Linked DNA regions of Homo sapiens: all the other regions are linked to region 1. The links come from fine-mapping of genetic effects on gene expression. A gene starts in region 1. Each other region holds a variant in brackets. All regions are shown on one strand. Distances are between the middles of the regions.

Evidence for each region.
Region 2: its variant is fine-mapped to the expression of LACTB in whole blood (INTERVAL, PIP above 0.99).
Region 3: its variant is fine-mapped to the expression of LACTB in left ventricle (GTEx, PIP above 0.99).

What each region holds. Positions count from the first base shown.
Region 1 is chr15:63,115,707-63,126,229 of GRCh38, forward strand. It overlaps LACTB (lactamase beta), which reads left to right and starts at 6,155. Exons shown (of 6, transcript NM_032857.5): 1 at 6,155-6,522; 2 at 6,930-6,996. The coding sequence starts at 6,166. LOC107984798 (a long non-coding RNA gene) reads right to left here and starts at 6,061. Exons shown (of 2, transcript XR_001751584.1): 1 at 5,034-6,061. RefSeq lists silencers at 6,044-6,623, 6,644-6,713, 6,724-6,913.
Region 2 is chr15:63,139,467-63,149,989 of GRCh38, forward strand. It overlaps LACTB (lactamase beta), which reads left to right. Exons shown (of 6, transcript NM_032857.5): 6 at 1,814-2,595. The coding sequence ends at 2,339. RPS27L (ribosomal protein S27 like) reads right to left here. Exons shown (of 4, transcript NM_015920.4): 4 at 8,783-10,523. Among named protein-coding and RNA genes, the nearest start is that of RPS27L, 13 kb to the right of the region's middle. The variant A/G (reference allele first, on the strand shown) is at 4,997.
Region 3 is chr15:63,172,969-63,183,491 of GRCh38, forward strand. LOC101928972 (a long non-coding RNA gene) reads right to left here. Exons shown (of 4, transcript XR_932355.4): 3 at 7,641-7,721; 4 at 5,099-5,347. Among named protein-coding and RNA genes, the nearest start is that of RAB8B, 11 kb to the right of the region's middle. The variant G/T (reference allele first, on the strand shown) is at 5,651.

The sequences.
Region 1 (10,523 bases):
TGGACATACTTGCTTCGTATGTCTTTCCCACTAAACATAATGTTAGCAATAGATTTTTTTGTAGATGTTCTTTATCAATTTGAAGAAGTTTTTCTCTATTCCTATTTTCCTAAGGGTTTTTTCGGTCATGAATGTGTTTTGCCTAATGATTGATATGTCTGCATCAATTGATATGATCATGTGATTTTTCTTTTTTAGCTTGTTAATGTGGTTAATAGTATACACTATACTGAGATATAGTAGGACAGGACTTGTGGCTAGAAGCAGCTGTAGAAGAGCATTCCTTCTTCTAAAGAAATAGCAGCAGAAGGAGATAAGGTACTGGATGGTCAGTCCTCAGCCTCATCTCTTACCTCACGCCCCTTAGTTCTCTACTCCACCCACCATGACTATCTTTTTTTTTTTTTTTGAGACGGGGTCTCACTCTGTTGCCCAGGCTGGAGTGCAGTGGCACAATCTCAGCTCATTGCAACCTCTGCCTCCTAGGACCAAGTGATTCTCCTGCCTCAGCCTCCCTAGTAGCTGGAATTACAGGTGCACACTACCACACCTGGCTAATTTTTGTATTTTTAGTAGAGATGGGGTTTCGCCATGTTGTCCAGGCTGGTCTTGAACTCCTGACTTCAGGTGATCTGCCTGCCTTGGCCTCCCACAGTGCTGGGATTACAGGCATGAGCCACCACACCTGGCCCATGACTATCTTTTAATTCCTTGAATGAAACCGCCTCTTCCCACCACAAGGCCTTAGCATTTGCTAATTCCTTGCATGGAACACTTCCCTTCTCTTTCTGCCCATACTTAACCAAGGTAATTCCTGTTTATCCTTAAAGTCTTGGATGTAATTTCATTTCATTAGGAAAGTCTTCCTTCATCTCCCAGATCAGATAACATCTCACATTATAACCTCTCAACACAGTATGCACCTCTCCTTCACAGCACTCATTACAACTAGGATTTTACATTTAATCTTGCCGTTCTGTTTATCATGACTCTATTACCGTATAGACTGCAAGTTCCAGGAGGGCTGGGACTATGTCTATTCTGAGTTGTTGGACAGAAGTTTCTATTGGTGTACCAGTGGTTTCTGTCTGAGTCCCACTCAGTATTTTGTTTTGTTTTCCTGAGACAGGGTCTCGCTCTGTCACCCAGGCTGGAGTTCAGAGGCATGATCACAGCTCACTGCAGCCTCGACCTCCCAGGGTCAGCAGTCCTTCCACCTCAGCCTCCCAAGTAGCTGGTAGTCACAGGCCACCATGCCCGGCTAATTTTTTAAAATTTTCTGTAGAGAACGGGTCTCACTATGTTGCCAGGGCTGGTCTCAAACTCCTGGGCTCAAGCAATCCTCCCACCTTGGCCTCCTAGATTGCTGGGTGTGAGCCACCGTGCCCAGCCTATAGTTTAACTTTAAAGCAAGGATGATTAGTCCCTCCCCAAAACTAACCCCCAAGGAGATAAGATGGGTATACACATAAGTAACAATGTTATGTTAAAAATTTGTAAGAGCACTGTGACCTGACAAAGACAAAGAAGCTTACCCTTGCTGCCACCCAGATGTCTGTGGTCACTGGTCACCTTTTGACCTAAGCCTCTTCCCGTTTTCCCCCTCCCCTAACATAAAAGGAGCCCAACATTCACATTTACTTAAGATGCTTCTTTAGGACAGTAGTCTGCCATCTTGGTTTGCTGGCTCCACAGAATAAAGTCATCTTCCCTGCTCCAACGCCTGTCTCTTGACTGATTGGCTGTTGTGTGGTGAGCAGTACAAGCTTTGGACGCAGTTACAGCAGTCCATCAAAACTGTAGCTCCAGCTTCAGAAGAGATGATATTAAAGTTCTCTCATGATCTTTTATTTCCCCAATTTCTGATAAGTGCATTTTCATATTTATATGGTTTTGCTTCATTTATTCCTATTTTGTTTTGTAATTCCTTTTTTGTTGTGTAGATATTATACATTTATTTATCTTTTATATATATTTTCAACAAATATATAAAATATATAAATACACAAATATATAAAAAATATTTTATATATACTTGTTTTATATATTTCAATATATAAAAATATATATTTAAAAATATATATTTGTTTTAAAATATATATATTTGTTTTATTTTCTATCACCCATCTTTTTCTTAGCCAGGGAAAGGCCTCTCTTTTTCCTCTTTTCCTGTATATCCTTCTACTGATTTTATTTTGTTTGGGGTGATTTCACAATTTGGTGGTTGATTTTATTGTCAGTGTTTTTTAGAAAACTTTTAAAAATATGTTTTGGAAACTTGGTTTGCAGATTTATTTTTAGTGGAAAGTTTCTTTCCTTCCCCTTTTCCTCACTTTTTTTCTCTCTTCCCATTCTTCTCCATGTGTAGTCATTTACCTTTTTTATTTATTTTTTTTTTTGAGACAAAGTCTCGCTCTGTCATCTAGGCTGCAGTGCAGTGGCGTGATTTCAGCTCACTGCAACCTCCGCCTCCCGGGTTCCAGTGATTCTCCTGCCTCGGCCTCCCGAGTAGCTGGGACTACAAGTATGTGCCACCATGCCCAGCTAATTTTTGTATTTTTAGTAGAGACGGGGTTTCACCATGTTGGCCAGGCTGGTCTTGATCTCTTAACCTCGTGATCCACCTGCCTCAGCCTCCAAAAGTGCTGGGATTACAGGAGTGAGCCACCGCGCCTGGCCTGTTTACCTTTCTTCTATCTGGTCTCTGCGGCTCCCACCCCAAAGCCAGCTCAAATGCTGGGGCTCTGGGCTCCTGCCCTAGAGTTGTAGTAAAGATCCTGCCAACAAGTCTGCAGGCTGCTTGGTCAGGTTGCCTCCTGGGCACTCAGCTTGCTGGAGAACAATTTATTTTCTGTTACCTTCTGAGAAAAGAAAATAACTTTTATGTGAAGAATGCAAGTCCTTTCAAATTATCAGGCCCAGGGAGACATTAAAATGAGATGGTGGCTGAGTATTGTGGCTCACACCTGTAATCCCAGCACTTTGGGAGGTCGAGGTGGGAGGATCGCTTAAGCCCAGGTGTTTGAGATCAACCTGGGCAACATGGCGAAAGCCCATCTCTAAAAAAAATACAAAAATTAGCCAGGTGTGGTGGTGCATGCCTGTGGTCCTAGCTACTCAAGAGGCTAAGGTGGGAGGATCACCTGAGCCTGGGAGGTTGGGGCTGCAATGAGCCATGATCACGCCACTGCACTCCAGCCAGGGCAACAGAGTGAGACCTTATCTTAAAAAAAAAAAAAAAAAAAAAGAGATGGCATTCATGTCCTACCCCCACAATAAGCTATGTATTCATCTCTTGAAACTGCTTGCTGTTGCCACGAGTAGTTATAAATTAACCTAATAATGGGGCACCAGACGCTAGAACCCATACCCTGTTGCTTAACAATGTATATAGCCAATCATTGTTATTTCTGTAAACCAATGGGGATCCCTGACAAACAACTTTGTATCAGCCCATTCCCTGTCCCCCTTTTTTTGCCTTTAAAGGCAAAGGAGGACAGGGGAGCTCCCCTTAATGGGGAGCTCATTCCAAGTTTCCTTGGGTCTGAGTCTTCAGGGCAGCTGTCCTCACTTTGGCTAAAGTAAAGTCTTTAAATTATATTTTGTGCCTCAGCCTCTTCCTTTTAGGTTAACACTTCCCAGAAGCCATACTTCAAATGGCCTCTCTGTACCTGCTTCTAGACTGGAAGTCCACCAGGACATTGGCTTTTGCCCTGTACATGGCAAACACAGGGCTCTGTTTCTTTTTTTATTTTTTATCCAAGGAGAGGTACAGAAGAGTGCAAAAAACACATATGTGAAACCAGCCCAATTGTCCAATAGAATATGTTTATGGTTTATTTTGAATAAAGAGAGAAAATTGACCTGCCCAGTCTTAAAACTTGAGAAACTTACATTTGTCTTATCTGAGTTCCTTTTGGAGGAAACCAACCATCAGGTCTCCCAGATAGTATCAAGAAACTGAAACTTACCAGATCACCACATTTGGACAATGAGACACCAGATCCTTCACCTGTCATGATTGCCTAACCCAGCGGTTCCCAGCTTTTTTGGCACCAGGGACAGGTTTCATGGAAGAAAGTTTTTCCATGGGGTGTGGGGTTGGGGCTGATGGGTATGGTTTCAGGATGAAACTGTTCCACCTCAGATCATCAGGCATTAGTTAGATTATCATAAGGAGCAAGCAACCTAGATCCCTCACATGCGCAGTTCACAATAGGGTTCGAGCTCCTATGAGCATCTAAGGTCATGACTGATCTGACAGGAGGTGGAGCTCAGGCAATAATGCTCCCTCACCTGCCACTCACCTCCTGCTGTGTGGCCCAGTTCCTAACTAGTCCATGGCCCAGGGGTTGGGACCCCCGGCCTAACCAACCACCTGCTTCCTGTTGAACAATTCTTCTTCCTTATCCCTCCCTATTTCCTGTTTCCCCACACATAGTTACATTTCTTCCTTGCTATATAAACCCCTAATTTTAGTTAGCTGAGGAAATGGACTTGAGACTGAACTCCCGTTTCCCTGGCTGCAGCACCTGAAAAAGCTTTGTTTTCCCCCGGCGATACTCATTGTCTTGGTGACTGGCTTTCTGTGTGGCGAGCAATGGGATCTAGGCTAAACCCTTGGTGTTTCAGTAACATATGTACAGTTTAAAGAAAAATTATGTACAGTTTAAATAAAAGTGGGCACTCATAACCACCACTGACTGCGTCTTTTACATTTTTCTCTTTATATTTTTTCTCTCATGTTCTTGGAGTAGTGGTGACCCCCACCGTGGGAACCTCCAGTACTATCTTAATAGAGTACATCTGTCCACTATAACTGCAGTTTCAGTGTCAAACGCTCTGGGTCCTAGGATATTCTGGTCTCTTGGAGTCTTGGGTTTTGTGAGTAGCCCCAGAAGCTTTACTTATTTAGCCCCACTATTTTCTTGCTAGGTATGGATACCATTATTGCCTTTTCCTCCTATTAAATAATTATTACCTCAATATATTTATTTTGAGGTATGTATATGTTTACTCAGTAAGTTTATTACCTCAATATGTTTGTCCTGATGGCTTGTCAGTTCAAGTCTGTGAGCTCTCTTCTTTATTCCACCTGCAAGAAAAGACAGGGCCATTTTGTATATGGGGCATATTGCCCCAGTGCTGAAGGTATAAAGCCTACAAGCTTTCAAAGATTGTGTGTGTGTGTGTGTGTGTGTGTGTGTGTATGTATGTATCCCAAAATATAAAAATTACAAAACTGATAAATGTTTAAGTAACTTCAAATTAACATATCAATTTCATTACACGTTAAACTAGGATTTTATACACATTTTACATTTTGTAGCAATTTGAGATTAGGTTTCTTATTTCACAAGAATGTCTGATCATTTACAGATGCTGAGAAATCATAGGTAATTGTAAATTATAATAGTTACTTTTGGATTAAAATTTTTCAAGCACGAAATTTTTAAAAAACACTTTATCTTTTATAGCAAAAGAAAGGTAATATAAGGTCTGGATGTAACTTCATGTCTTTGGTACGGTGTGGAGCTAGAATTCCAGAAGCAATAGATTTTAAAACATCTTTAGGGAAATGGGTGAATTGAAATGAGACATAAGGGAGATGGCAAGAGAGTGAAAAGAAGCGCGTTCTAAAGGGGGAAAGGAGAAAGGGAAAGGAAAGGAGAAAGGCATCTCTAAAGGGAAAGGAGATGCCTGCTGAGCGTCTACTGTGTGCCCTGCGCTGTTCCAGAAGTTGAGGATCCAAAACTAAGTCTAGGCTCCCCAAAGAAGTCCCACTCTGGTAAGGAATCTGACAAGTAGTTAAATGATACAAAGTGTTAACTGTTGTTAAAGAAGTGTGCACACTGAGGGGCAAGATGGTAAGGGCGAGAACTCCCATGGGACGGGAACTAGGAAGGCTTCTGGGAGGTGACGCTTGATCTGAGGGTAAGCAAAGGAAAAAAAGGAAAGAGAGACAGAAAGGAAAAACAAGGAAGAGACAAGAAAAGGGAGAGGAAGAAGGGCTCGATGCGATCGGCGCTCGGGTAGTCAGGCGTCGACTGCTAGGGTCTGACCGCGGTCCCCACCCCCGTCCCGCCCCCTGCCCTTCCCTCCGCCCCGCGCCGCGGCTGGCAGGGTGTGCGTGAGTTTGGTGGCGGCCGGCTGTGCAGAGACGCCATGTACCGGCTCATGTCAGCAGTGACTGCCCGGGCTGCCGCCCCCGGGGGCTTGGCCTCAAGCTGCGGACGACGCGGGGTCCATCAGCGCGCCGGGCTGCCGCCTCTCGGCCACGGCTGGGTCGGGGGCCTCGGGCTGGGGCTGGGGCTGGCGCTCGGGGTGAAGCTGGCAGGTGGGCTGAGGGGCGCGGCCCCGGCGCAGTCCCCCGCGGCCCCCGACCCTGAGGCGTCGCCTCTGGCCGAGCCGCCACAGGAGCAGTCCCTCGCCCCGTGGTCTCCGCAGACCCCGGCGCCGCCCTGCTCCAGGTGCTTCGCCAGAGCCATCGAGAGCAGCCGCGACCTGCTGCACAGGATCAAGGTGCGGCCACTGGAGCGGGGGGCGTAGGGGGCCGGGGATCCACCCCTGTCGGCGGTGCTGTCGGGGGCTGAGTGGACCCCACCCGGGGCGGCGGGGTGCCCGCGATCGGCTTCCGAGAAAGACTTCCCATTTCCCCACCGCCGAGCCGTGGTCAGACGCTCTTGGGGGTTCCCCAAATCTGGGTGGAGGTCACCGCCTGTCTCGGGGACCGCCCCTTCCCCCTAGGGGGCGGACAGGCACATCCCTTGCTGTTAGTGAGTGACCATGGCCTGGGACGAGGTGGGCGGGGCCCAGGTGGAGGGGGCGGGGCCCAGGCTCAGGGGGCGGGGCCTTGGAAGGTCCCCGAGGAGAGCGCTGGGCTTTTTCAGCAGGCCCGTAACTGTCGGTTCTTTCCCCTTCGGTCTTAGGATGAGGTGGGCGCACCGGGCATAGTGGTTGGAGTTTCTGTAGATGGAAAAGAAGTCTGGTCAGAAGGTGGGTTCAGAAAATTGTTGTTTTGTTCTGTGCCAGTTGGTAAATAAAATATTGTTTTACTGGTTAGAGTGGATCCCATGAAATGCTATTGCATTTACATAAAACGATGCATATTGTAGAGAAAACATCTAACATAATAAAGAGTCAGGTGTTTTTAAATCACGGTAAGGTTTAAAATGTGACTAATAAATTGGAGTCATGAGGATGGCTACCCACTCCCACTTTTCTCTTAGGACTGGATTTATTAGTCTGAAAGTTTTATACAGTAGTCCCTCCTTATCCTGGGGATATATTCCAAGACCCTCAGTGGATGCCTGAAAAAGTGGATGATATTGAACCCTGTATATACTATATTTTATCTTATATATACATATCTATGATAAAGTTTATAAATCAGGCATAGTAAGAGATTAGCAACAATAATAAAATAGAACAATCACAACAATACTCTGAGTGGCATGCAATTTAAAGCTTACGAATTGTTTATTTCTGGAATTTTCCATTTAATACTTTCGGACCATGGATAACTGAAACTGAGGAAAGCGAAACCACAGATAAGGGGTAACTACTGTGTAGAACAATCCATTAACTGAGTACTTGCAGGTAACACTTATGGGTAGATAAAACTCAGAATTTGTGAAGTTTTCTTTTTTAATTAAGTTAACAATTTCTTGAGGCCTCTCTTCCGTAAAAAGCAAAGTGCTAAGTACTGGGGTTATACACTATTGTAGGGACCAGCCCCACAGGGTCGGTGGGTCTCTCCCTGTGTGCGGCGACGAGAGAGTGTAGAAATAAAGACACAAGACAAAGAGATAAAAGAAAAGACAGCTGGGCCCGGGGGACCGCTACCACCAATGCGCGGAGACCGGTAGTGGCCCCGAATGTCTGGCTGCGCTGTTATTTATTGGATACAAAGCAAAAGGGGCAGGGTAAAGAGTGTGGGTCATCTCCAATGATAGGTAAGGTCACGTGGGTCACGTGTCCACTGGACAGGGGGCCCTTCCCTGCCTGGCAGCCGAGGCAGAGAGGGAGAGGAGACAGAGGGAAAGACAGCTTATGCCATTATTTCTGCATATCAGAGACTTTTAGTACTTTCACTAATTGACTACTGCTATCTAGAAGGCAGAGCCAGGTGTACAGGATGGAACATGAAGGCGGACTAGGAGCGTGACCACTGAAGCACAGCATCACAGGGAGACGGTTAGGCCTCCGGATAACTGCGGGCAAGCCTGACTGATGTCAGGCCCTCCACAAGAGGTGGAGGAGCAGAGTCTTCTCTAAACTCCCCCGGAGAAAAGGAGACTCCCTTTCTGGTTCTACTAAGTAGCGGGTGTTTTTTCTTGACGCTCTTCGCTACCGCTAGACCACGGTCCGGCTGGCAACGGGCGTCTTCCTAGATGCTGGCGTTACCGCTAGACCAAGGAGTCCTTCTGGTGGCCCTGTCTGGGCGTAACAGAACGCTCGCAGTCTTGTCTTCTGGTCACTCCTCACTGTGTCCCCTCAGCTCCTATCTCTGTATGGCCTGGTTTTTCCTTGGCTATGATTATAGAGCAAGGATTATTATAATATTGGAATAAAGACTAATTGCTACAAACTAATAAGATTAATGATATATATAATCATATCTAAGATCTATATCTGGTATAACTATTCTTGTTTTATATTTTATTATACTGGAACAGCTCGTGTCCTCGGTCTCTTGCCTCAGCGCCTGGGTGGCTTGCCGCCCACACACTATTCCTTGTCTTTAATGACTTTTCAGTCTACTTTATTAGGCTTTTTAACCAGGTAGAGGTGTCATCTATTTTTTTCAAACAGAAGGCAAAAAACTTAGGGAGAGGGATTTCTATTCATTTTATGATACTTTTATCAAGGCATTATTTTTCATAACTTCTCTGTTGCACAGAAATTGATCTAATTGGTCATCCTAGGTTTCTAGGAGTCCCACTTTTAGAAAATGATGTTTCAGGCCAGGTGCAGTGGCTCACGCCTGTAATCCTAGCACTTTGAGAGGCAGAGGCAGGTGGGTTGCCTGAGCTTAGGAGTTCGAGACCAGCCTGGACAACGTGGCAAAACCCCATCTCTACTAAAAACACAAAAAATTAGCCAGCCATGCTAGTGCGTGCCTGTAATCTCAGCTACTCGGGAGGCCAGGATACGAGAATCGCTTGAACTCGGGAGGCGGAGGTTTGCAGTGAGCCAAGATCGTTCACTGCACTCCAGCCTGGGCAACAGCGAGACTCTGTCTCAAAAAAAAAGAAAAAAAAATGTTTCATATGCCATTTAAAGGCAGTAAGTTGATGGGCGCAGTAGGGGTTTGAATTTGAAGAAAAATGGGCCAGTTGAGGTGGCGCACGCCTGTAATCCCAGCGCTTAGGGAGTCCAGGGAGGAAGGATGGCTGAAGACCAGAAGTTTGAGACCAGCTTAGGCACCATAGCGACACCTGTGTCTCTATAAAAAAAATTTTATTTATTTATTTTTTTTTTGGAGTTTCACTCTTGTTGCCCAGGCTGGAGTGCAATAGTGCGATCTCAGCTCACCACAACCTCCACCTCCCAGGTTCAAGTGATTCTCCTGCCTCGTCCTCCCGATTAGCTGGGATTACAGGCATGCACCACCACGCCTGGCTAATTTTTGTATTTTAAGTAGAGACGGGGATTCTCCATGTTGGTCAGGCTGGTCTCGAACTCCCGACCTCAGGTGATGCGCCTGCCTCGGCATCCCAAAGTGCTGGGATTACAGGCGTGAGCCACCGTGCCCAGCTTAAAATTTTTTAAAAAAGGAAAATGATTCTTCCTTCAAGTATAAGTATAATCTAATCATTATACCTAATTTATGATAAGTCTTGTAATCAAAAATTATATAAATGTCAGCTTTATGGACTTTATGCAAATATTTTTTAGATATTTAAGATTATACAAATTTATAGTCATTGTATTCCTTTTCTTTTCAGATCTCTGTTCTCTTTTTATTTATTTATTTATTTATTTTTTGGACAGGGTCTCTTACTGTGTCTCCCAGGCTGGCGTGCAGTGGTGTGATCTTGGCTCACTGCAATCTCAAACTCCTGGGCTCAGATGATTCTCCCACCTCAGCCTCCTGACTAGCTGAGACTACAGGTGCACTCCACCACGCCAGGCTTTTTTCTTTCTTTCTTTCTTTTTTTTTTTTGTATATTTTGTAGAGATGCGGTTTCTGCCATGTTGCTCAGGCTAGTCTCGAAATCCTGAGCTCAAGTAATCCACCCGTCTCCGCCTCCCAAAGTGCTGGGATTGCAGGCACTTTCTCTTTCTTAGTTAGATTTACGCACTTTCAGCCTGTGAGAACATGGAAACCAAATTTAAAATTTTTTCTAGAAAAAGCTTTAAGTTAGTACATAATTTTCCTCCTGGTTTGCAGTCGAATTAAATTGATGGTTAGCTAGATTTGGTTTGCAGGACATCTTTTCACACATTTTTGAGACAGTTTCACTTTGTCGCCCTGGCTGGAGTGCAGTGGCGTTTTCTCAGCTCACCGCAACCTCTGC
Region 2 (10,523 bases), 24 kb after region 1:
ACATGGCAAAACCCCACCTCTACTAAAAATATAAAAGTTAGCCAGATGTGGTGGCGCACAACTGTAATCCCAGCTACTCGGGAGGCTGAGGCAGGAGAATCACTTGAACCCGGGAAGTGGAGGTTGCAGTGAGCCAAGATCGCGCCATTGCACTCCAGCCTAGGCGATAAGAGTGAAAGTCTGTCTCAAAAATAAATAAGTAAATATACAGAAAAAAATTAGCTGGGCATGGTGGCAGCACGTGTAATCCCAGCTACTGGGGAGGCTGAGGCAGGAGAACCAAACTGCAGCCTGGTCAACAGAGCAAGACTCTGTCTCAAAAAAAAGAAGTTACAGAAAGCTGATTATTGGCTGGGCACAGTGGCTCATGCCTGTAATCCCAGCACTTTGGGAGGCAGAGGCGAGTGGATTGCTTGAGGCCAGGAGTTCGAGACCAGGCTGGACAACAGTGAGACCTTCATCTCTACCAAAAAAAAAAAAAAAAAAAAATCTTAGCCAGGTATGGTGGTACACACCTGTGGTCCCAGCTGCTCAAGAGGCTGAGGCAGGAAGATTGCTTGAGCCCTGGAGGTTGAGGCTACAGTTAGCCATGATTGTACCGCTGCAGTCCAGCCTAGGCAATAGTGCAAGACTCTGTCTCAAAAGAAAAGTAGAAATTTATTTCTCAATGAAAAAATGTGTTTCTATTATGTAACTTTTAGATTTAATTTTATTTGGTTGGCTGGAATTACAAATATAATCAGGAGTTGACACAAAGTAATGAGGGCCTAAAATTTGAGAGTTGTCATAGGAATAGAAGGAAGGGAGAAGGGTAAGACACAAAGCAGAGATTGAATAAATAGGATTTAGCATCTTACTGGATGTGAGAGTTTAGGGCAAGAAAGTCATTAAAAGTTGTATAATGAAGGTTTTAATGGAGAGAAACATGACAGACATGTTGATTTTGAGACAATGAGAAAACCACCTCTTTTTTAAAATCTTCAGACACATACCTGTGGCCACTCATTTCCTAACTGCCAACCCTACTTCACTCAATATTATGACTTGTACTTTTAGGGGACGTATAAGAATCTTGAAAAAAGAAGAAAGGATTCAAACTAGGGTTTGCTAACTCCAGCCTTTCCCACTGCACCAAGAAACTACCATGTCACATCATTATATATGATATGTATATGGTATTTTGTTTAGAATTTTTTTTTAGATAGGGTCTTGCTTTGCTGCCCAGGCTGGACTCAAACTCCTGGGCTCAAGTGATCCTCCTGCCTTAGCCTCCTGAGTTGCTGGGATTACAGGCACCAGCTGCTGCACCCAGCTTATATGGTATTTTTATCCAAGAAATCTAGTCATCTTACAAATAACCTTATTCCTAAACATCCCAAAGTGCTTTGGATGTTTACAGTTTTGGTTATAAAATTCATTTGTGGCACGATGCAACATTAACCCCAAGGACAAGGAATATCTACCAAATGATAACTTTCTCCATATGCACAGGGCAAATATGTCATGTGTAATATTAACCAATACATTTTTGCAGGTATTAAAGGTTTGATACACTCAGCATGGACAAGCCATACCAATAGAAAAAAACCACTTTCTATGCTTTAATTCAAAAGGTAATTAGACTATCTTACTTAGTTATCTGTGTGTCATTAGGACCTGAATCATACTGAAAATTAGTGGTTAGTTTATAGTTTCTGAGAATGTATGATCATTACATTGAAATACAATCTCTCTCATGTATACATTTTTCTATCATCATGTGTGAAGCCAGTGACTATGAAATTTTTCATGATCATTTCTTATTTCCTTTTAGATTTTATGTTTACAATAAAAAGAAACGTCTTGTCAACACACCTTACGTGGATAACTCCTATAAATGGGCTGGTGGTGGATTTCTGTCTACAGTGGGTGACCTTCTGAAATTTGGGAATGCAATGCTTTATGGTTACCAAGTTGGGCTGTTTAAGAACTCAAATGAAAATCTTTTACCTGGATACCTCAAACCAGAAACAATGGTTATGATGTGGACCCCAGTCCCTAACACAGAGATGTCTTGGGATAAAGAGGGTAAATATGCAATGGCGTGGGGTGTTGTGGAAAGGAAACAAACGTATGGTTCGTGTAGAAAGCAACGGCATTATGCTTCACATACTGGAGGGGCAGTGGGTGCCAGTAGTGTCCTGCTGGTCCTTCCTGAAGAACTGGATACAGAGACTATAAATAACAAGGTTCCCCCAAGAGGAATCATTGTTTCTATCATATGTAACATGCAATCTGTTGGCCTCAATAGCACCGCTTTGAAGATTGCCCTTGAATTTGATAAAGACAGATCAGACTGATAACCTTAACACCATAGGTGCAAAATGAGTTGTTCTGAGGTTTTTTTGAAACATTAAAGTTCCAAAACATGACATTTTTAAGAATAAATTTGAAATAGAGTATAACTGAATGCAGAGAATTATGTACCTCTAATTGCTTAATTTTGTAATGGTCTTTTATTGTAGAATTGGTTCTTTATACTCAGGGAAGTAATTATATTGTTTTTACTTTTTGAAAAAAGTGTTAACTCTTGAAATAAAATATTCTGATAAAATATGTACTTTCTGCATGTGTAATACAGAGAAAATCTCATTCAACAGGAGCCTCCAAATATCCGAGGTTTTTTTTCTTTTCTTTTTTTTTTTTTTTTTTTTTTGAAATGGACTCTTGCTGTGTTACCCAGCCTGGAGTGCAGTGGTGTGATCTTGGCTCACCACAACCTCTGCTTCCTGAGTTCAAGCGATTCTCCTGCCTCAGCCTCCCAAGTAGCTGGGATTACAGGCACCCACCACCATGCCCAGCCACTTTTTGAATTTTTAATAGAGACAGCATTTCGCCATGTTGGCCAGGCTGGTCTCGAACTCTTGATCTCAGGTGATCCATCCGCCTCAGCCTGCCAAAGTGCTGGGGATTACAGGCGTGAGACACTGTGCCCAGCCCAAATATCCTTTTAATATGAGAGCAGAAACAAAAGCATGAGAAATGGTATATTAGTTATCCACTACAGCTTAAAAGAAACGTTCAGAGAAGGAATCGGGAAATCAGGAGCAATATAGTCACGTGGGTCTGGCGCGGTCTCTAATGAGGTTGCAGACAAGGTGTTATGATCATCTGAAGAATTCTCCAGGGCTGGAGGAAATGCTTCCACATGGCTTACTTGCATGACTGCTGGCAAGAGTCAGTTCTCTGGCTGGTGGGTGGCAAGGGGACTCAGTTTGTCACCACATGGACCTCTCTGTAGGGCTGCTTGAGTATCTTATGGTAGTTGGCTTCCCGCAGAGTAAGTGATGAGACAGAGAGTGCCAGGCAGAAGTCACTCTTTTATAAACTAGCCTCAAGTCACATACCATCACATTTGCCAAATTCCATGGGTTACATGGGGCCTAATAAATGTTGAAGAGATTATATACATTGTGAATATTAGGAGGCAGGAATCACTGGGTGTCAACTTGGAAGTTGGGTACCACAGTCTGACCTCTGGTCCCCAATGATTTATGTCCTTCCCAATGCAAAATACTCTTACCTCCTTTCAAATCCTCCAGAAGTTTCACCTTAATATAGCATCAGCTCAAAGCCCAGTATCTTATCATCTAAATCAGGTCAGGTGCAAGTGTGAATGAGGGCTCCTTGGGATGAGTTCCTTAGGTACAGCAACTCAAGTAGTTTCTCTTAAGACCTGTGAACTGTAGTTATTTGCTCCCCATATGTGTAACATACCGTAGCACAGCAGATATAGGATAATTGCTAGATACCGTCCTCTTCAAAAAGTAGGGAAGTGGAAGACATACAGGAGACTGGCAATTCTGAAATTCAGTCAGACAGAGGTTGGCAACTCTGATTAGTATTCAAGGCTTCAGAATAATTCTTAGTTCTTGGCTATGTTCTCTGGGCTCTTAGTTCTACCTTACGAGTTATACTTTTTCTTTTTTTTAAGAGACAGCTGTTCACCATATTTCCCAGGCTGGTCTTCAACTACTGGGCTCAAGTGATCCACCCACCTCAGCCTCCCAAAGTGCTGGGATTATAGGCATGAGCCACCGCACCCAGCCCCTGAGTTATACTTTTTTTAATTGTTCTTTTTTACTTTTTTTTTTTTTTTTTTGAGACAGGGTTTCCCTCTGTCACCCAGGCTGGAGTACAGTGGCACAATCTCGGCTCACTGCAGCCTTAGCCTCCTGGGTTCAAGCAATTCTCCCACCTCAGCCTCTCGAGTAGCTGGGATTACAGGTGCGTGCCACCACTCCCGACTAATTTTTGTATTTTTAGTAGAGACAGCGTTTCACCATGTTGGCCAGGCTGGTCTCGAACTCCTGACCTCAGGTGATCCGCCCCCCTCGGCCTCCCAAAGTGCTGGGATTACAGGCGTGAGCCACTAAGCCTGGCCGCTTCCCCATACCTTTTTTTCATGAAAGGTAGCGTATCTTTCTAGCTGAGTGGTTTTCTCAGTGTGCTTTCCACTTGTAGAAGTTTGGAGACCCAAAGGCCTTTTTATACTCTCTTTCCTTTCCATCTAAGTTAACAGTGGTTCTGCCAATATAATATTTTATTTCTCTAATTTTTGAATTTTTTTTAGCAACCCTATTAACTGACAATATAATATTTTAAAATGTTAAGAGTATCCTGTGAATTTTATTGGGGTTTATGCCAGTAGACAAAAGCCACCCCAAAGTCCCTTCAGAATATCCCCTCTCTAACTTGGGGCTTGTCTCTGCCAAGATAATGGGAAGAACTAATTACGCTAATAATCTAATGAACTCTATTGTTTAAATAGTTCTCTGAAGCACCATGTTGATTCATTTTGAAGTCTTGAGAAAGGATTGTATAGTCATGCCCTCAATATCATCTTTAGACTATGTTTTCCTGGAAGTGCCCTCAATTATTATCTTTGCCTTGAAGCCATTTCTTAATTTTGGCATCATTTGCAATCTGAAGAGTCTGGGAATTTTTTAAACCATCA[A/G]TTATTAATTCTTTACCAATAGTTCTTCCATTAGCTTATCTTTCTCTTGCATGTTAGTATAAGCAACAAGAATTAAGGAAGCACATTCAACACTGTGTATGGCTCTCTGCTCCTTCTCTTGCCCTGTGACATCCGGGCTCCCCCTTCTCTTTCCGCCATGGTTGTAAGCTTCCTGAGGCCCTCACCAGAAGCACATGCCAGCACCATGCTTCCTGTCCAGCCTGCAGAACCGTGAGCCAAATAAACCTCTTTTTATAAATTACCCAGCCTCAAAACAAAAAAACAAAAAACAACAACAAAAAAAAAAAAACACTGCATATGGAAATCCCATCAGCTAGTCACCCAATTCATTAGGCACATTTTCTGTTTTCTGAGTTACTCCTGGCGACAGTGTTGCTAAATTTTCTGTCAGTACTAAACAAGAATCCCTTCCTCTAATTGCCAATAAGATTTCTCTTACTTTCCTTAAGACTACACCTGCAGCCTCTTCAAAGGCCATACTTCTCAACAATTTCTTCAAGGCTCTTCAGGTTTTCATTAACACTTTCCTTAAAGTCCTTCCAACTTCCATCCGCTGCTCTGTTCCAAATACATACACACATACACACACACACGTAATTTAGATATAATTCACAGTCCATATGCCATAAAATTCTTTAACGTGTACAATTCAGTGGTTTTTAGTATAGTCACGAGATTATGTACCCATTACCACTATCCAATTCATTTTCACCCCAAGAAGAAACCTCATACCCATTAGCATTTGCTCCCCATTCCTCTGTCCTTCCAGCCCCTGGTAACCAGCAATCTACTTTCTATCTCTTTGGATTTGCCTGTTACGGATGTTTCATATAAATGGAATCACACCATATCTGGCCTTCTGTGTCTTGAGCTTTTTCCTGTAGTATAATGTGTATTAGTTATCTATTACTGCATAACAAATTACCCCAAAGCTTATTGTCTCACAGTTTGTGTTTCAGAAATTTGGGGGCAGCTTTGCTGGGTGTTTCTAGCTCAGGGTCTCATGAGTTTGTAGACAAGATGTCAGCAGGGGCTTCAGGCATCTGAGGGAAGGCTTGACTGGGGCTGGATAATCTGATTCCAAAATGATTCACCCACGTGGCCATGGGCAAGAGGTCTTTGTGGCTTGCTGGCTTTGGGCAAGAGTTTTCAGTTTCTCACCACATGGCCCTCTCCATAGGTCTGCTTGTCTGTGCTATGGCTTCCCTTTAGAGCAGGCGATTGAAGAAACAGGGAAACACCTCAATGTCTTTTATAAATCAGCCTTGGAAGCCATATGCCATCACTTATGCCAAATTCTGTTGGTTACAGAAACCAACCCTGATTTGGTGTGGGAGAGGACTGTAGAAAGGAGTGGATACCAGAAGGTTGGGATCATTGGGAGCCATTTTGGAGGCTGCAGTGTTAACGTATTGGGGAATTTTGTTCTAACAGCCACAGATCATGTGTACTAGAGATTACCAGTGTGCCACTGAACTCAGGAAAATTCAAAAAGAAATCAAAGTTTTTATACACCCTAATAAAGGAAGGGCTTTTCTATAATTCTGAGCCCTAAATCTGTTTCTTCCCTTAACACTTTATACAAGTAAATAGATGGATATCTCTGAGTTGGTTGAAGTAGAAAGAGAGCAGCTCTCTAAAACAGATCCATTTCATCTCCTTATTTCTTTCTGACTTCTGATCTCTAGGTCCTGTATTCATGTTTGTCAAGTTTTCAATCCGTGCCCTTAGATAAACATAAAAATGTCATGCCTTTCTTTAATGTTATTTTAACATTAAATGTTTAATGTTTCTTTAATGTTAGTGTTTTATGTTATTTGGAATTTATTTATTTTTTAGAAACAGAATCTTGCTCTGGCACCCAGGCTAGAGTGCAGTGACATGATCGTAACTCACTGTAACCTGGGCTCAAGTGATCCGCCCACCTTGGCCTTCCAAAGTGCTGGGATTACAGGCATGAACCACCATGCCTGGGCCCCCATTTGGAATTTTCTTTTATTTTTATTTATTTATTTATTTAGAGATAGGGTCTCACTCTGTCACCCAGGCTGGAATGCAGTGGTACAATCATGGTTCACTGCAGCCTTGACCTTCCAGCCTCAGGTGATCTTCCCACCTCAGCTTCCTGAGTAGCTAGAAATGCAGGTGCACTCCACTATGCCTGGATAATTTTTTGTAGAGTAGGGGTTTCACAATATTGTCCAGGCTGATCTTGAACTCCTGGACTCAAGCAATCCTCCTGCCTCAGCCTCTCAAAGTGCTGGGATTACAGGCATGAGCTACCGTGCCCGACCACCAATTCTTTGATGGCCACGATTTCCTCTCATTCCATTGTGCATGCAACTTTGCAATGTGATTTTGCTGCTTTTTCCATCCAAAGGTGGAGCTCTTTCTCCACTCTCTTGAATCTGGTCTTGCTTTATGATTTGCTTTTTGACCCACTGAATGTGGTGGAAATAATGTTGCACAAGTCCCACTGCATAGGCTTTAAGTGGCTTTCAAGCTTTTGTCTGCCACCTTCTAAGAACACTACCCCAAGATTGCCATGTAAAGAAGCCAGACTAGCTTACTGAAGGATGGGGGACCATGTGGAGGGGAACAGAGATGCCCCAGCTGACAGCTAGCACCAGCTGCCAGACCTATGATTTGAGCCTCCAGGTGAAGGTGGCTGTGTAAGTGAACCTAGATGAGACCAACAGAGTAAGCAGCCAACTCATATACTCATGAGAAATAGTAATAAGTCAACATTTTAAGCTATTAGATTTGGGGGTGACTTGTTTTGTAGCAAAAGTTAACATATCTATGCTCCAGTGTGGTGGTAAGGTGGGTAAATCACTTTAGGGAAAAAATGGAACATTAAAGTACTTGATGTTGAATAGACATGACTGCTTTCCACTTAAAAAAAAATACCACACAAACTATTTTTTTTTTTTTAAGACACAGTTTCGCTCTTGTTGCCCAAGCTGGAGTACAATGGCGCGTTCTCGGCTCACTGCAACCTCCACCTCCCAGGTTCAAGTGATTCTCCTGCTTCAGCCTCCTGAGTAGCTGGAACTACCGGCACATGCCACGCCCGGCTAATTTTCGTATTTTTAGTACAGACGGGGTTTCATCGTATTGGTCAGGCTGGTCTCAAACTCCTGACCTCAGTTGATCCACCCGCCTTGACCTCCCAAAATGCTGAGATTACAGACGTGAGCCATCGCGCCTGGCCCACACAAACTATTAACAGAGCACTTACTGTGGGGAAGGCATTTTGCTAAGCTCTTTGTATATGCTATCTCATTATACCTTCAACATAACTCTATTAAGTAGAAATATTATTATTTTTTCACAAGGTCACAAACCATTAACTAGCACTTGTTTCAAACCCACACATATCTGACTCTAAAGCCTGTTTTAACCATTATCGTGACTTCCCATAAAAAGCATCTCTAGGCCAACGCAGTAGCTCACACCTGTATTCCCAACGCTCTGGAAGGCTGAGATGGGCGGACCACTTGAGCCCAGAAGTTGAGACCAGCCTGGGCAACATGGTGAAACCCTGTCTCTACAAAAAATACAAAAATAAACCAGGTATGGTGGCATGGGCCTGTAGTCCCAGCTACTTGGGAGAATGAGGCGGGAGGATCACTTGAGCCCAGGAGGCAGAGGTTGCAGTGAGGCGAGATCGCATCGCTGCACTCTCTAGCTTGGGCAACAAAGCAAGACTCTGTCTAAAAAAAAAAAAAAGGCATCTCTAAAAATTTACCAATCCAATAAAAGTCATATTTAATGGCATGCAATTTTATTGATGCAGTCTTCAGTTTAAAAGTTTGTCACATAAAAATGAATAAAAATAAATATGTTGGTATTTTAATTAGTTGGCTACAAATAAAGAAAAAACACAACTTCAAATTAATACAAAGACAAGATAAAGAACATAGAGTCATAATCTTACACAACCCCTCTGTTCTAAATACATAGCATGATATATAAAATGTGTAATGAGAAAATTAAAAAGACTTTCATAGACACAAAACACTGAGCAGGGCTGAAGCTGAGGGTCTGCCGGGCTCTGGTTCAAAAGGCTGTGGCAGCTCCAATTTCTGTTCCTATAGAATAACTGAAACTAACACTGCTTCCCTAAGATTTAAAATGAAAGCTTATTAACTAAATTAGGACTATTCTGCCTAAATTCTTTGAAAGGTGAAGTTTTGCTAGGTGTGAAAGTGAGAGTAGCCCTAGTAGTGTAGGGGGAAAGCGAGCCAGAATCAGTAGGACACAAATCAGCAGAGAAAATTTGCAATTCTGGCATCTCCTTTGAAACAAAATTCAAAGGCTATTTAAGTGTCGATCAATAGCAAACACCATGACCTGATGTCATTTCTTTTTTTTTTTTTTTTTTTTTTTTCTGAGACAGTCTTGCTCTGTCGCCCAGGCTGGAGTGCAGTGGTACGATCTGGGCTCACTGCAAGCTCCGCCTCCCAGGTTCAAGCAATTCTCCTGCCTCAGCCTCCCGAGTAGCTGGGACTACAGGCGCCCGACACCACGCCCAGCTAATTTTTGTATTTTTAGCAGAGACGCGGTTTCATCATGTTGGCCAGGATGGTCTCAATCTCGACCTCGTGATCCGCCGCCTGGGCCTCCCAAAGTGTTGGGATTACAGGCGTGAGCCACCGCGCCCGGCCCCTGATGTCATTTTCTATGCCTATAGTTGTGAAAAAGTAGCTGTAAAATCCTAAAAGAATACAAGGTCATTATTCTATAAAAGTTATCCTTTTCTTTGTAAAATGCAATAATGTACTCTATTCCTTCCAAAGATTTAAGTTTTTTTCCATGGAAAATTACGAAGACATGAGAGGCCGAGGCAGGCGGATCACGAGGTCAGCAGATCGAGACCATCCTGGCTAACACGGTGAAACCCCATCTCTACTAAAAATACTTTAAAAAAATTAGCCCGGCGTGGTGGCACACGCCTGTAGTCTCAGGTACTCTGGAGGCTGAGGCAGGAGAATGGCGTGAACCCAGGAGGAGGAGCTTGCGGTGAACTGAGATTGCGCCACTGCACTTCAGCCTGGGCGACGGAGCAAGACTCCGTCTCAAAAAAAAAAAAAAAAAAGAAAGAAAAAGAAAAAAGAGAATTACAAAGACATAATTTAAGAATCTCAGTTTCCAAATATGGGGTAGAATTTTACAACTTTATATTCTGTGGTAGCAGAATAATGGCCCTCTAAAGATTCCCACACCCTAATCCCCAGAACCTACGAATATGTTACCTTACATAGCAAAATGGATTTTGCAGATGTCATTAAGAATACTTTATTTGGCCGGATGCAGTGGCTCACACCTGTAATGCCAGCACTTTGGGAGGCTGAGGTGGGCGGATGGCCTGAGGCAAGGAGTTCAAGACCAGCCTGGGCAACATGGCGAAACCCCATCTCTACAAAAAATACAAAAAATTAGCGGGGTGTGGTGGCACGTGCCTGTAGTTCCAGCTACTCGGGAGGCTGAGGCCAGAGGGTCA
Region 3 (10,523 bases), 57 kb after region 1:
CCCTGCTTTCTGTTCAGGCAATGTGAGCCAACTGTGCCTTCCTGCTCCTCTGTTGTCTGCAGCAGTCTGTGATCAGGACTCAGAGGCTTAACCATAGCAGTGGAAAGCAGGATGCACTCCAAACTTAGCTGACTTTGGATAAAATGGCTCTAAAGCTCTTTTTCATTTATATACAACTTTACATTACAAAGCCCATCACAATCAGCATTAATTAAACCTGCCACTCATTGCCCTCTGAGGTAGAGCTGAATTAGTCTGCTTATTTTACAGCTGACAAAACAGACAGAAAGGCTTAAGGATTTGCTGAAGTGAAGTGGGGTTCAATCAAGGAAGCCTGGCATGATTCCCTTTCTAGTTCATTCTTCTTCTCCTGGAGGAGGACTTCAAAATGCCTAGCTCCTAACTCTGAGCAGCTAAAGGAAGCCAAGTGGGAAGAGAAGCTTGGCAGAGCAGCCGTGGCGATCTAGAACAGAACATCAGTGTGAGGTTTGGATGATGTGAGCACAGCCAGGTCATGTTTTCCTGATTCTCAGTGGATATTACACACATGCGCGCGCAAGCACACACACACACATGCGCACACGCACACACACATACACACACACACACACACACAGTTTCCCTTGTTGGGTCAGGGAGCAGAAGGATGTTGGAACGTAGTTGGAGCGCTGGTTGGCAGCAATGCTCTGTTTGACCTGGTGGCAAAGTGGCCCACCCATTACCCACACTCCAACCACTTACCAGAGCCTTTATATTAGAATTTTAAACACACTCAAAATCAAACACATTCCAAGGACAGGCCCCATTTTGTGGGGCATGGAGCAAGAATGAAAATGAAAACCAACATATCATATGTCTAAATATTTAAAAATTCTAGCCAAAGCTAACAAACTTGGGTTTCCTACCTTGACAGATATACCTTTACAATGATGCAGATAATTGGTTTGAATTTAGAATATTTCAGCTCCTTAGAGGTCCATACCAAAACGTGGTGGCCCAGGAGAGCAGCCCTGGCCCAGAACAGTGCCCTTCCTTCACCCCTCAAATTGGGCCCACATCATGAAGGGCCTCACACACACACGATGTGGATTCCAGCCCATATGTCCAAGCGCTGGCCATATCATCACCCCCTTTTGGTGGCCACTTGGGGCTATGGCCCAATTGTACAGTCCACCCTCAGAAGGATAGATCAGGGCTGGGTGCAGTGGCTCACACCTGTAGTCCCAGTACTTTGGGAGGCTCACTTGAGGTCAGGAGTTTGAGACCAGCCTGGCCAACATGGTGAAAACCCGTCTTTACTAAAAATACAAAAATTAGCTGGGCATGGTAGTAGGTGCCTATAATCCCAACTACTCGAGAGGCTGAGGCAGGAGAATCACTTGAACCCTGGAGGTGGAGCTTGCAGTGAGCTGAGATTGCGCCACTGCACTCCAGCCTGAGCAACAGAGCAAGATTCAGTTTCAAATAAAAAATAAATAAAAAAGGCCGAGCACGGTGGCTCATGCCTGTAATCCTAGCACTTCGGGAGGCCGAGATGAGTGGATTGCCTCAGCTCAGGAGTTCAAGACCAGCCTGGGCAACACGGTGAAACCCTGTCTCTATTAAAATACAAAAAATTAGCCGGGCGTGGCCATGTGTGCCTGTAATCCAAGCTACTTGGGAGGTTGAGGCAGGAGAATTGCTTGAACCCCGGAGGTGGAGGTTGCAGTGAGCTGAGATCACACCACTGTACTCCAGCCTGGGTGACAGAGCGAGACTCCGTCTCCAAAAAATAAAAAAAGAAGAAAAAGAAAGAAAGAAAGATCGATCAGGAGAAGAGGCCCATACCAATCCTGGAAGCAGGGCCATTGGCAGGGAATCCTGAGTTCTGGGTACCTGGAATGTAGCCTAAAAAGATGGCATGGCTCTGGGTGAGTAAATCCACTTAGCCTGTAAACTCCTTGCCCAGTGGAGAGGACTGACCAGAAGAGAACAAGGGTAGCATAGGGCTCTCTACACAGTGGGCCCCAGGGGAAGAGGCCCCTCTTGCCAAGACCTAAGAGCAAATCATATCTGGCCAAATAATAAATAAGCCAAAGATGTGAGTTAATAGAGTCTGCACAAATCTGGGTACCATTATTTCTACCTCAACTATACAACACAAAGGCATGAGCTGTTTCAATATTTTATCTGCTACCTCCAATAAATAACTTACTTATTCTGGGCAGTAGGCATTATCTCCAGTAGGTATAAGGGCCAGAGAACAAATGAATGAGCTCCATAAGTAAATATTTTACTGCTAAGGTTGCACTCCCATACAAAACCAGACATCAAAACTCTAGAGGATGATCCTAAGGTCAGTGCCACTGCTGCTGCCTCCCCAGAATGGACCAAGGGGGTGGAAGAGAAGCTTGATTCCCTGGACTGCTGGGCATTGCTTTTTGTGGGGGTTGCTTGGGTCAGTCAAGGTTGTGAGGAGCTGTCAGACAAAACAGCTTCTGTCCACATCATTTCCTTCAGAATCAGGGTCATGATCACAGTCCTGGCTTTGAGATGCAAAGAAGCTAAAATTATGAGCTTCCTTATTGTTCCCCCATATCTCAGTTTTGCATAATAATTTACAACATTTAATATTAAGGGAAATATGTCCACATGTAAAAAGTATTTTCATCACCAAATTCTCAAGGCAAAAGATGTAAGGAAATGTGTACAATGTTTATTTGGATGCAAATTCGTTGTTGTGTGTTCAAACGTTAACAGCATTGAATTCTGGATTCTCGGCTCAGGCGAGGGTTAGTTCAACTTTCTCCAACAATACTGTTCATAATATATGAAGGATACATTCCTTAATGATCTTTGGAGGTTGGTTATATAATTTAATTTCCTTAAAGTTTTTGTTTTGTTTTATTCTGTTTTTGAGACGGAGTCTCGCTCTGTCGCCCAGGCTGGAGTGCAATGGCACGATCTTGGCTCACCGCAACCTCCGCCTCCCAGGGGGTTCAAGTGATTCTCCTGCCTTAGCCTCCCAAGTAGCTGGGATTACAGGCGCCCATGCCCAGCTAATTTTTGTATTTTTAATAGAGACAGGTTGGCCAGGCTAGTCACGAACTCCTGACCTCAGGTGATCCAAGAGCCTTGGCCTCCCAAAGTGCTGGGATTACAGGCATGAGCCACCACACCCGGCTTCCTTTAAATTTTTTCGCTTTTCATATGGAGGTAGAAACAGAGCCCAAATCAGAATTTAAAAGTTGGTTCAGACTAGTAGGTGGTGGTCACTTCTGGGGTGTAAACAGGCAGGTTCTTTTCCTACCCCCTTCACCTTCTCCCCAACAGATCCACTATCTGTTCAGATAGAGCCATTCTGGAAAGCTAGGGACAATTTTTATTCCCTGACTAATCCCATTTTTGGTTGTCACTTGGCAACTTGGTCTATATTGCAGCCTGTACAAGCATCCAGCTTCCCGAAGGCATCCCTGAAACCTCGCTCAATGCAGTTCAGGTTCCCATGTCATCTTGATTCATCCTCCTTGCTCATCCATTTAAGGTGAATTGTGGGTCTAAAGTAGGTGACTCAACGCTGGTCAGCAAGACCTTGCTGGGATGGTTCACCCAAGAGCATTGCTCTTAGGTGATGCTGTTGATTGCTAGTAAAACCCAATGTCATTGATACTGAGTGTGGTAACCTTCCATGTATCAACAATAGTTAGGGAATTAGGTGTTCTAATACACTGGGTAATCCACTTAATTATAGACTACCAGTGTCTAAATAAATATAAACTAGTTTTGAAATAACTATAAGGCTGCGCGCAGTGGTTTATGCCTGTAATCCCAGCACTTTGGGAGGCCGAGACGGGTGGATCACTTGAGGTCAGGAGTTCAAGACCAGCCTGGTCAACATGGTGAAACCCCATTTCCACAAAATAATAAAAAAATTAGCCAGGCGTGGTGGCGCGCTCCTGTAATCCCAGCTACTTGGGAGGTTGAGGCAGGAGAATTGCTTGAACCTGGGAGGCAGAAGTTGGAGTGAGCGGAGATTGCACCACTGCACTCCAGCCTGGGCGACAGAGTGAGACTCTGTCAAAAAAAAAAAAAAAGAACTATAAACTAGCACCACAGTACATTACCAGTATATCATAATTCTACCTAGTATTTTAACTATTTAAGTGTGGGTCCCACCTCCCATGAAGGCCATGTGCTTCTTACGGAGTGGTCTGTGTCAGTTCATCTTTATTCCTCTTATGGTATCTAGTAAGTTGCTTTATATATTGTAGGTGCTAAAAGAGCTTTTGTTGAATGAAACTATAGAACACAAACTATCATTTACTAACATGACTTAATCCTGTGATGACTCAGAAGGCCCTCCAGGATCACACATTTCTTCAAGGTTGTTATTATGTGTGTTATCTATGGGGATGTTTAAACACAGACCAAGTGGTTGAAAGGGGAATTCTGCAGTGCCTGGAAGATAGGACTTGATAACTACCAGCTCATTCCAATTCTGTGTGTATGTATTGAAGAGTCAAATATAGAAATGATCTCATTTATTATCACCTGAATGAAACATGTTTATGAAACCAAGAGATTACAAGTGAAAACTGTCAAATAGCCTCTGTTAATAAGCCTTAACCAGAATTCATGGTCCTTGACCATGATAAGTCAATTAATCTGAAAAGGTAGGATTCCATTAGTGCTGTGAGTGAATTATTACCATTATTTAATTTTATTAAAACCTGCTCATTAGATTGTAATTTACTAATTAATGCAAACATATTTGTCACTATGTGGCTAATATATGCCAAGCCTGTGTTAGTCAGTCATTAGGGATACAATGTAAATATAATTCATGCCCTCAAGAAATTCAAATAATTTCTCTGTAAAAACACTTCATTGTGCAGATCATTTTTACAGCACTTTAAATGTCAATGTGGGAAATTAGCCTGGGTGTGATATGACCCTCTAACCTAGCCTATAATTCATTCAAAATACAGAACAATACAAAGCAAAAAATGCCAGTTAGTTTAATTACTTGACATTAGTCTTTTTCTCAAAAACACAATATACAGAATGTTCATTCAGAATTCTGGGTAAATATGCTTCTGCACAGATGATTTTAATTTCAGGTTAGTACAACATCTGCCAGTCCCCCAGAGCTTGAGGGTGAAGCAGCTTCCCCAGGTGTGGAGGAGAGAGAGCCATCACAGCGCCCCACCCTCTTCTCTGATCTTTCTGTGGATCTGACAGTGACAGAGGCGGCAGCAGGGAGCCCTGCCCTGGGACTCAGGAGAAGCCTGGGAGCAGGGACGGGTGTTCTCAGTCCAGTCTGTCAGGAATTCTGGGAATGGATGCTGCCGTCTTTCCTCACAGCTTCCTGTAAACATGCTGATTTTCAACTTGATAGTAGGACTTTGCTATTTAGTGTTTTCATATCTAAAACTAAGGGGTTAGGTTTCGAGGGGTGGCTTAGCCTCTAATCTCAGCACTTTGTGAGCCCGAGGCAGGTAGATCACTTCAGGCAAGGAGTCTGAGACCAGCCGAGGCAACATGGTGAAACCCCATCTCTACCAAAAAAATATAAAAATTAGCTGGGCGTGGTGGTGCGGGCCTGTGGTCCCAGCTGAGGTGGAAGGATACCTTGAGCCGAGGTGAGAGGATACCTTGAGCCGACGTGAGA[G/T]GATACCTTGAGCCCAGGTGAGAGGATACCTTGAGCCGAGGTGAGAGGATACCTTGAGCCTGGGAGGTAGAGGTTGCAGTGAGCCAAGATCATGCCACTGCACTCCAAGCTGGGTGACAGAGAGAGACCCTGTCTCAAAATAAATAAATTTAAAAAAAATAAAAATAAAAATAAGGGCCGAGTGCGGTGGCTCTCACGCCTGTAATACCAGCACTTTGGGAGGCCAAGGCGGGTGGATCACCTGAAGTCAGGAGTTCAAGACCAGCCTGGCCAATATGGTGAAACCCATCTCTACTAAAAATACAAAAAATTAGCCAGGTGTGGTGGCGGGCGCCTGTAGTCCCAGCTACTCGGGAGGCTCAGGCAGGAGAATCGCCGGAACCCAGGAGGCAGAGGCTGCAGTGAGCCGAGATGGCGCCACTGCACTCCAGCCTGGGCGATAGAGTGAGACTCTGTCTCAAAAAAACAAAAACAAAAAACGAACAAACAAGCAAAAAAAAGGGTTTGGATTAAATGAGTTTCCTAACATACAGTCTGAGGACACAAGCCCCATAAGATGCGCCATCAGAATGGAGTGTGGGAAAAGCCGTGTGCCACACCTTGCGGTGGAGACTCACAGCTGCGCCTCTGCATACTGACGTCAGAGAAGCCGCACCATCTAAACAACTGATAGCAGCATTTCTCAAAAAGCTTAGCCCTGAAATCTTTTCTTCTTGTATCACCTGCTAGCATCTGCTGACTCACTTAGCGTTCTGAGGTACACATTTTGAGAAACCCTGGAATACATCTCTATAGTCATTGGATTTTTGTTTTGTTTTTTCTCGAGATGGAGTTTCGCCCTGTCACCAGGCTGGAGTGCAGTGGCGCAATCTCGGCTCACTGCAACCTCTGCCTCTGGGTTCAAGCAATTCTGCTGCCTCAGCCTCCTGACTAGCTGGGATTACAGGCACCCGCCACCACGCCCGGCTAATTTTTGTATTTTTAGTAGAGACGGGGTTTCTCCCCGTTGGCCAGGCTGGTGTCGAACTCCTGACCTCGTGATCTGCCCACCTCAGCCTCCCGAAGTGCTGGGATTACAGGTGTGAGCCACCGCACCCGGCCTAGACATTGGTTTTTATGGCCTCTTTTTTTGAGACGGAGTCTCGCTCTGTTGCCAGGCTGGAGTGCTGTGGCGTGATATCAGCTCACTGCAACTTCCAACTCCCTGGTTCAAGCGATTCTCCTGCCTCAGCCTCCCGAGTAGCCGGGATTACAGGCACGCACCATCACGCCCAGCTAATTTTTGTATTTTTAGTAGAGACGGAGTTTCACCATGTTGGCCTGGATGGTCTCAATCTCCTGACCTCGTGATCCGCCTGCCTTGGCCTCCCAAAGTACTGGGATTACAGGCGTGAGCTACAGCGCCCGGCAGGTTTTTATGGCCTCTTAAAGCAAGAAGTAGTCTTAGAAGTCAGAGGTCCATTGAGGTTAGGTAGCCTGTCAAGGATCTCAGTTAGTCACTGGGCAGACTAGGTCCCTTTCATCTGTCAATTTCTTACATTTGTATTCTCATAACCTTGATGGATACAATTTTACTGTGAGGAAAGCTAGAAAAAGCATCAGCAATTGAAATCCACAGACAATTCCTAAGCCCCAGAGTTTCCACTTTTGGGTGAGCCCTGTTGGTTGAAGTGACTCCTGATTAAGCAAAAGTGATTAGAAATACTATATTTTCTAATGATGACTGTCTACAGGCTAGTGGAGGTGTTACTGAATAGAGACTTATACACAATTCAAGAAGCCACTGAGAAGAGGGAAAGCAGAAACAAACAGTATGGAGTCCAGAGCCCAAGTAATTAGCTCCTGGTGATGAAAAGTAAATTAATTTTTTTGATACTGGGCTCAAGGAGATCCTCTGATTTTTTTTTTTTTTTTTTAAGTACTAAGTATAAGTCACAGATTCAGTTGGCGTCAGATCTTGAAAAAGAGATCTGATACTTTCTATACTGACCTTAAAGCCTAGTCTCCTGGATAGGGTCTCCTTTTTGCCAGCTCGAAAAAAATCTCACACATCTCTTCACTTGGTCTTTGCCTTGAGTTAAAAGAACAAAAATAATTTTAGGCTTTAATCTCTTTTTATGCAGTTTACTTGCAAAAAATTATTTAAGTTGGTGGCTAAGTAAACAATGGTATTCTCTCAGCAGTTAATTCCACTGGCTTTTCCACAGTCCCAACTATAGTATAGCCTAGCCCCAAAGTAATTAAAGAAGCAAGCAATTTGCGTTCTTTTTCTACAAAACTACTCTTGAGTAGCAGATGGCAAACACAAATGTTTTGCTCTAGAGACATATGGAAACCTCTCTGTTTCATAAAAGCCTCAATAAATATTAAACCCCAAATGATGCCATTCATTGCAGAAATAAAATGTGATAATCCCCCAAACAGCCTAATTAGACCATATAGCTACTTGAGTTTCAGAAAGCAATAGGTGGGAAATTACTATGTGATTGGGATTTCATTCGCAGTTTCTCTTAATCTGAATATTCAACCTGGCCCAAAAGAATCACCTATTCAGCCTTATTTATTCAGCATTCTATTAGGTTATCATCATCATTTATGCTTGTAATTTTAAAAGTGAATAATCAAAGAATCCTGCTTGATTTCATATTAACTCTTCAGTTCTGTCTGAACCAGTGAGAGCAAGGAATTTCACAAAGGGAGAGGGTGTTTTATCACAGGTTCTGGAGCAATTCAACATGTTCCCTGATTAACTCTGTTTATAATCCCTTGCTGCTGTTAAACCAGGAAAAAAAAAAAAGTCAGAGCCAGGTGCAGTAGTGTGCACCTGTAGTCCTAGCTACTCAGGAGGCCGAGGCAGGAGGATCACTTGAGCTCCGGAGTTTGAAGTTACAGTGAGCTATGATCGTGCCTGTGAATAGCCATGCACTCCAGCCTATGGAACATTGTGAGACCCTGCCTCTAAATATATATACATGTCTATGTTTAAGGTTATTCGGGAAATGATTATGATTATTCATATTAAGTAGGAATTGCAGGAAGAAATCTGATTGGAGTTGGCTCAGAATAATGCAGAATTTCATTTTTCTCTTAACCCAGTAATTTGGCAACCCAACAAATCATTGTTGCTATCTCAGGACTGAAACTTGGTGCTCCTTGGAAAGAGAGAAGCAATGATAACTGAGTCATAAGGGTGAATTGAATGTTGTTTAGAACAAGGAACTAAGTATCTTGGGCTCCTTTCCCGGCTCCACACCCTACATAGCCTCAATGGGACTCACAAGACCTCTGAGGTTGCTGATAAATCCCCTGATTCACCAGGGTGTTTGGGTGGCTTGGGAGACTATTGTGTGAAAGATCAGAACTTCCAGGTCTCAGGACATCTGTTATCGGGGCCTGGATTCAAGAGCTCAAAGGATTTTACAGATGGGAATGGATGATTTCATTCAGTTCCTCCCATTTTACAGTTAAGGAAACTGAGGCACAGAAATGCTGTGCTTGTTTAAGGTCACAGAACTATTTAGTAGCAGAGGGGAAACAGAACTCAGGTCATCTGATGCTAAGTTCAGTCCTTTTGACAATAACAAAGTCCCAGGACAGATTTGTCAGAGCCTGATAGAATAATTAGAAAGTTTGCTTCAGGAACCATTTAAGGGTATAAAGCCCATTTTAAAGTCTTTGCTGCCAAAATGGGCTTTATACCGTCAGCTGATTCCTGAAGTAGCGCAGAAAAGGGGCCAGGTGTCAAAGTGCTTTGGTTAATTCTGGCTTTGGGTTACCCATTCCCTCCTCAAGGAGGCCATATTTCCTTCTTCCCAGTTAAGCATCAACCCATCTGTTTAGAGAATGACAAATCACACTTTTTCTGGATTCAGTTCTGTGATTTCTCCAATGTAATCAATCACTTGGTAGTACTTGACACAAATATCCATGTGATGGCCAAGCATCGTGGCTCACACCTGTAATCCCAGCACTTTGGGTGGCCGAGGTGGGCGGATCACCAGAGGTCAGGAGTTCGAGACCAGCCTGATGAATACGGTGAAACTCTGTCTCTACTAAACACACAAAAATTAGCCAGGTGTGGTGGCATGTGCCTGAAATCCTAGCTACTCAGGAGGCTGAGGCATGAGAATTGCTTGAACCCGGGAGGCAGAGGTTGCAGTGAGCCGAGATCGTGCCATTACACTCCAGCCTGGACAATACAATGAGACTCAGTCTCAAAAACAAGCAAACAAATATCCATGTGCATTTGACACGTAAACACAGATGGTGCTCATTTGTTTCCCAGCCTTATCTTCTCCAGTCTTCACTAATAGAACCCTGTGTTTAGGGTGAGGCTGACTCTACACCCAGTCCCAGTGGCTTACATCAGTTGACAGAGGCCACTCTCTTGGGCCCTGCATAGGTTCAGGGAAGGGCAGTCAAGGCCCATGGAACTCAATTCCTGGGTATTTATTTGAACTTTTGGGGAAAAGGATTCTCTACATTCTGCTCTGTTTGAATCTGGAAGCAAGGAGCCCTAGGAGTTTCAGGAAGACATTTTGCAACCACATGGGGCTAGCCTATTGAAATAAGTGCTATCTTGAAGACGTGTTGCTAAGATGCTGACAAAGAGAAGCCAAGAACTGGGCATGTAATTTGAGCTACTAGATTAAGTCTCACCTGTCACTAGGCTTATATCTGATAATTCTAGTTTAGGGTTAAATATATTTATGGTTTAAATCAGTATTTTTATTTAGGTCATTTAGTATTCTGTTATTTACTACCATAAGAATCCCAATACCTGTTCTGATGCTGATTGTGAGTTTCAGCACATCTTGACTTTGCTATTGGATAAGAGTCCATTTTAAAGTTGGCCCCAAAAGACTTAAAAAAA